2 linked regions of the Homo sapiens genome follow. The protein of the gene in region 2 purifies or fractionates together with the protein of the main gene of each other region. This does not show direct contact. Each region holds a gene or a part of one and is shown on either strand. Other genes may lie near its edges.

Region 1 (3,500 bases), on a different chromosome or scaffold from region 2:
ACTTGGCCATTGCCATCTTCCTAGTGTCATGAGTGAAGCGTTAGGCAAAAGATGGGATTTACTGAATTTAGTTAGTGCAAATGGAAGAAAGAAAAATTGAGGCCAGGAGTTCAAAAAGAGCAATTAAAACATTCATTCACAGTTATTTAGTCATTTTTCAGTCACCAGTTTCCAGTGAATATCTTCTGGGTGTTCTGAATGTCTTTTGTGCTAGGTATTTCAAAAGACACAAAGTCCGCGTAATATCCTTTTAGTAGCTTCTGAGGATTTCTTGAAAGTCATTCTACAACTATGTGAGAAAACAGACATTTTCACTAACTACATGAGATGAGGGTCCTTAAGAAATCACAGATTAGCAGAGAGGACAGAATGAAGCACTATCCCTTTGTATCTCAAAATAGAAATATAAATAATCGTAATTAAATCCAAGGTAGTCAAGAAACAGCCTATGAGAAAGATGTTACTGTTTGCATATACTAGAGGCCACTAACCATCAATACTTCCTATCCTGTTTTTCCTTCACATCTCAAATAGAAGAATGGCTTCTAATCATAAACAATTTTATCTTTTACTGGCCGGGTGTGGTGGCTGACGCCTGTAGTCTCAGCACTTTGGGAGGCTGAGGTGGGCAGATCACCTGAGGTTGGGAGTTTGAGACCAGCCAGCCAACATGGCCAAACCCCGTCTCTACTAAAAATACAAAAATTAGCCGGGTGTGGTGGCACATGCCTGTAATCCCAGCTACTCAGGAGGCTGAGGCAGGAGAATCACTTGAACCCAGGAGGTGGAGGTTGTAGTAGTAAGCCAAGATCAAGCCACTGCACTTCAGCCTGGGCAACAGAGTGAGACTCTGTCTCAAAACAAACAAACAAACAAAAAATTACCTTTTAAAAAAATACAGCTTCATGGGTATCAGAATCCCTATAGTACAGTAGAATACTTATCTTACTAAACTAGGAATTAAATTAACTTTTTTTTACAACAGCTTTATTGAGATAGAATTCACCCTTTTAAACCATTTGGTTTAGTGGTGTTTAGTGTATTCACAAAGTTGTACAGCTGTTACCACTGTCTAATTCCTGAATATTTTGATCACCCTCAAAAAGAAACCTCAGGTGTGTTAATAGTCGCTTCTCATTCTCTTCTACCCATAGCTCCTGGCAGCCACTGATCCTCTTTGTCTCTATAGATTTGCATATTCTCAACATTTCATGTCAGTGGAATCATACAATACGTGGCTTTTTGTGTCTGGCTTCTTTCACTAGCATAGTATTTTCAAGGTTTATCCTTGTTATGGCACGTATCAGCATTTCATTCCTTTTTGTGGCTGAATAGTATTTCACTGTATAGATATTTCACATTTTGTTCATTCATTCATTGGTAGGCATTTGGATTGTTTTCACTTTTGACTATTTGAGTAATGCTGTTATGAATGTTCATGTACAAGTTTCTGTATGAACACATCTTTGATTCTCTTGGATATATACCTGGAAGTAGAATTACCGGATCATGTGGTCCGTCTAAGTTTTGGAGGAACTGCCATATTTTTTTCCACAGCGGCTGCACCGTTTTACATTCCCACCAGCATTGTGTGAGGGTTCTGGGTTCTCCACATCCTCCCCAACTCTGAGTATTGTCTGTCCTTTAGATTATAGCCATCATAGTGTGTGGGAAGTGGAGCCTTACTATGGTTTTGACTTGTATTTCCCTAATACCTAATGGTATTGAGCTTCTTTTCATGTGCTAATTGGCAACAATGATAATTTAAAACTTTTTCTTTCAGGTAGCTTCCTATTGAAGTTTATTCGGAAGATGACAAGTAGGCATTGGTGTGCTGTTCCCATTTTGTTTCTATCTAAGGCTTTGGCAAATGTCCCAAGACATAAGGCCCTGGGTATAGATGGGCTTCTTGCTCTCAGGTAATTTACTCTGTATATGTACTTGTATGGTTATTTGCCATGACTTTCCATCAATATATATATTTTCTCCTCTGCTTTAATCTACAGTAAATGGATATAGTTAATATTGGGATTGGGATGTTTGGGCTCTTAATTTTACATAAGAAAAAAATTAAAAAATGTATTATTCGTATAGTTGAACTTATTTTGTTTTACAAATTACTAGTTTAAATGTGTACTGAAGTATGTGCTGTTGAATTTTGACCTCTTTAAATAAGGCCAGTAAGTTTTTTTTAAAATTACATTCGTAAGTAGAAAGCTAAAGATAAAATATCAAACAATAATATTTAACAGAAAGTATTTAAAAAATATTTGGTAAAAAGGAATTTTGAGGAGATGAAAAAAAGAAAAAGTATTTCAGTAAATATAAACTTCTTTAAAAGCATCTTCATTTATAGTTTTTTTTTTTTGAGCTGGAGTCTCGCTCTGTCACCCAGGCTGGAGTGCAGTGGTGCGATCTCGGCTCACTGCAACCTCTGCCTTCTGGATTCAAGCGATTCTCGTGTCTTAGCCTCCTAAGTAGCTGGGATTAAAGGTGTGCGCCATTACTCTCGACTGATTTTTGTATTTTTAGTAGAGACGGGATTGCACCATGTTGGCCAGGCTGGTCTCAAACTCCTGACCTCAGGTGACCTACCCGCCTCAATCTCTCAAAGTTGTGGGATTAGAGGTGTGAGCCACTGCGCCCGGCCTATAGTCTTATTTTTAAAAGAGACTTGTTTCATAGTAAAATTGAGCTCTTAATAGAGGCCATAATGGGAAATAACAGCTTTGAAATTCTGCAGACTTTCTGCATTAGGAAGTGTAGTTGTTATAAATCAACTTGTTGATAATCACAAATTATCAGAATTGTCTTTGGGAATACGGAACTGCATTTTTTGTGTTTCGATGTCAGGGATGTTATTCATTGCACTATGATCACACATCAGATTCTCCTGAGAGGGGCAGCCCAATGCTACCTTCTTCAAACAGCTATGAATTTGCTAGATGTGGTAAGTTTTTCTTTTGTTACTTCCATTTACAAGTCTTTCTTAGTGAGTGGGTGTACAGAAATGAGTTAACATAGCAGACCTGTGATACTGCCATTAGAAAGGCCTGCTTGTAATAAAATAATAAATGTGCTTGTAATAAAATAATACATATGATCTCTCTAAATAGTCCTTGGCTGGCACTGGGACCTTGGATTTTGGGAGGATTTACACTATCCTAACTGCTAAGAGTGGCTTATTGTATCTAAAGTGTTTGTTCAATGTGGTTTATGCTGAAAACCTGCTTTCTTTCTGAGAGTCTGGAATTTCAGTATGTATGAGGCAAAAGGTGCCTGCATGACCACGTCCCAGGAAAAGCCCGAGGCACTGAGTCTCCATTGAGCTTCCCTGGTAGACAGACTTTCACTGTGTTGTCACAGCTTGTTGCTGGGGGAGCTAAGTGTGTCCTGGGTGGCCCACTGGGAGAGGACTCTTGGAGCGTATGCCTTGTTCCCTCTCTACATTTCCCCTCATCTTCCCCTGTATCGACATTCAAGGAATATATATGGTGTGT
Region 2 (3,500 bases):
CAGGTCACGCAACCTCTCAGACTTCAGTCACATCCTTCTCATGAATTGAGAAGCACACCTGAAGTGTGATTTTTTAAGGATTAAATGGGATTATGAGGAGATGTTTTATAAACATTTGTAAATTGTTTTTACTAATAAAAAAATGCTTAGATTACAAAAACAAGAGCATGCTTAGTCAGTGGCTCTTCAGAGTGAATTTTAGTTTCATTAGAATCCTTTCTTCTGAAATCTAGCTGAATATTAAGAAAGGGGTAATTTTGGAGATGCTGGAGTGAGGTGGTGGGCAGACCTAGGTAGAGCACAGCAGGTGGGGTCTGGTCCTTATTCAGGAGAAAATAGACACCAAACATGTGAGCAGGACACCCCAGGCTTGGAAAGGCCTGGGCTCATACTGAGTCAGTACACTCGCTTCGCTGAAGGACTTCAGAGGAAAGGAGGGAAACTGGCCAATCATTGCCACTTTGTCTTCTGTAGGGTAGATCCAACATCCAGCCTTTCTTTCTCTCATGAACTCTCAACCTATTCCAAGGATCTCTCATTTGTCTCCTGACCTACTGAGGCAGCCTCTAACTGGCCTCCTTTCATCCATGCCAGCCCCCTTCAGCGATCGGCCGCATCCCTACTCTGTATCACACTCTGCTTAAAGTGAGGCTCCCATGCTCCCAGGGTGAGAAAGGAAACTCCTCAGCAAGCCTGTAAGGCCCGATGTGGCCTGCTCCTGGCCTTGCTGACCAGCCCCATCTTGTCTACAGTGCACAGTTCTCAGTGTCCTTGTCACATGTGCCTTCTCCCATTCCCTCTAAGGGTTTGCTCCTGCTGACTTTACATGCATGGTTCCTTCTGCCGAGAAAGCCCTTTCCCCACTAGCACCAGCCCCTCTGCCCAGCCCCACACTTCACACTTCACCAAGGCTGGCCTCCTCACCCTCCAGAGCATCAAGTGCACCAAGATCAATGGTACCACATACTGCTCCTACTCATTTTATAGGCTTCCTCCTGCCTCTAGCCCCTTTGTTGGTCTTTACCATGGATTTGTATGCTAACAAATTACTTTTTTAGAGTAGACTTTGTTCTGTTGAAGAGAGTATTGAAGGGTCAAATAACTCCCACAAAGATGTCATGGGATAAGTAGAGACCATGCTGGGACAGCAAGAACCTGAGCTTTGGGGTATGGATTCTCGAGTTCAAACTCAAGATCTATCATGTACTCTCTCTGTGGTCTTGGACAGAATAGATCATGTCTCTGAGCTAAATTTTACCATGTATAAAATATGAGCAATAAATGCCAAGGTGCAGGGTTCTTCTAAGGATTCAGCGAAATAACATTAGAAACTCACAGGCATTGGGTCTCAGTGAATGGAGTTGAGTCTGAAGTTGAGTTGACTGTTGAGTAAAGCAAAGTTCTGGAAAGATGGTGTCATTAAAACTAAATCCTCTGATTAAAAATTAGTCTGTTCTTCTGGTATTACAGTAGGTGATGGATTTTCTACATAGGAAACTCATAGCTCCCGGGAAGCCTACAGGAAGCTTATTAACCTGGCATTGTATATGGCATGGGTTGAAAAAGGGAAGACAGGAAGTTAGGATCCCAATTGTCCTAGTTCAGAAAACGTCTCGGGCCAAAATTTGGATGGTTATAAAACTAGAAATAAGGGGAAAAATCTTTTAGAAAATAAAGACTGCATGGCCTAGCCACTGATTGTTTTATAAGGCAAAGAGGAAAAGGAGGATTCTATTAGGTAGGGTCTTGGCAGAGAACAGATTGGCAGTTTGAGAGGAGTTAAATGGAAGGACTCTTCACAAGTGTGTGAGAAGGACATTAAGAAACAAACAAAGAGAAGCAAGCATGACCCAGTACCAGGAGCCTAGTAACTGTGGCTCATGACCCACTGCTACCACAACTGCCCCTAGCTGGACCCAGAGACCCAGCTGGCTATGGGGTGAAGGCTGCCTGACAGGAACTGTGGCTGTGGCCCCAGGAAGGCAGCCAGCCTAGTTCCAAGGAAAGAACTAGGAGGATAAATATCCTGATCCTCCTCTTCTCTCTCCCTCAGATCTCCTATGGGTACCTCCCATTGGTCAAATCCAATCAGGAGCCAGAGGGCAAGGAAGGCATTTGATAGGTTCATAATGGTCAGCAGCTTCCCAGGGCACAGTCCAGAGTAGGGAAGCAGGCAGAACGGATCTGGAGAGGTGAGGGAGTTCAGAATAGAAGACACCCAGCACACGGGGCATGATGACCTTCCTCTGCTAATGCCATTGCCCAGATCAAGAAATCTAAGGATCCCTGAAGACAGGATCCTGACACACAAGAACGCAGTAGGATGCCCTCTCTAGAAATTCTACATCTGCAAAACAGATAAAGTAGAAGTGATTATTTACTCCACAAGGATAGAGATTGTTTTAAAACAGTACTTCCCAAATGAATGAAGCAGTTGTTGACAGATGATTACCTGAGGCTAAGAAGGGGTTAGAGGAATAACGTAAGGAACAATTTTAAAATCACCCAAAATGACTATAACACATCTCAGAAAAATCACAACGTGATTTCAAGAGCACTTGGATTGCGTAAAGGAAGTGATATCAATTCTGAACTCCAGCTTTCCTATCTGGCAAAAGCTTTATCTTGCTGAGATAGCATCTGCTGTGGTGAACGGTCAACAACTGGCTATTACCCAACTTTAGGCAGAAACCATTGTAAAAGTACAGAAAACAACCAGAAGTATCTGAACACCTTCGACTTTCTGGGTATTTTGCCAGATAAATTCTTCCTTTGCAGTTCTTAAGGGCACAGACTGAAGTTAGGTTGCTGGACTCAAATTCTAGCCCTGCTTGTACTTTCTGTGTATCCTTAGGCAAGTCACTTACCTTCTCTGTGCCTCACTTCCTCATCTCTAATGATAATTACAAGGAGGCAAATAATAGTGCCTCTGTCAGAGAAGAGATATAAAGAATAAATAAGTTAGTTGTGAATTCCTTAAAACAGTGCATGGCACATAACAAAGGTTTCTGAAATAAATAGTATATATTAGTTTGCTAGGGCTACTGCACCAAAGTGCTACAAACCGGGTGGTTTAAACAACAGAAATGTATTGTTTTATAGCTCTGGTGGCTAAAAGTCCAAAACGAAGGTGTTAGCAGGGTTCCTTCTGAAAGCTGCGAGACAAATGTCTACTCGAGGCCTCTCCTTTGCTTGGAGATGGCTGCCTTTCTCCCTGAGTCTTTTCACATCACCTTTATCCATGTGTTTCTCTGTGTCCAGATTCCCCCTTCCACAGGGACACCCGTCACATTGGATTAGGACCCATCTAATGATTTCATTTTAACTTGTTTATCCCTGTAAAGACTCTATTGCCAAATACGGTTATATTCTGAGGTACTGAGGGGTAGGGCCTCAAATATGAGTTTGTGGGGACACAATTCAATCCATAATAGAGTGTTTGTTAAGGAAATGACTCCTCAAGGAGATTTTCTTGTGTTTTGGTTTCCCCTGAATGTCAG

What was found.
Region 1: the proteins of ABLIM3 (region 2) and TARBP1 purify together in Homo sapiens (affinity purification with mass spectrometry; one large-scale study listed by BioGRID and IntAct). This does not show direct contact.

The regions. Positions count from the first base shown.
Region 1 is NC_000001.11:234,458,680-234,462,179, reverse strand, and holds part of TARBP1 (tRNA (guanosine(18)-2'-O)-methyltransferase TARBP1), read left to right. Parts: intron 1-1,783; coding exon 1,784-1,919; intron 1,920-2,853; coding exon 2,854-2,950; intron 2,951-3,500.
Region 2 is NC_000005.10:149,147,993-149,151,492, forward strand, and holds part of ABLIM3 (actin-binding LIM protein 3), read left to right. Parts: intron 1-3,500. UniProt on the Homo sapiens protein: May act as scaffold protein. May stimulate ABRA activity and ABRA-dependent SRF transcriptional activity.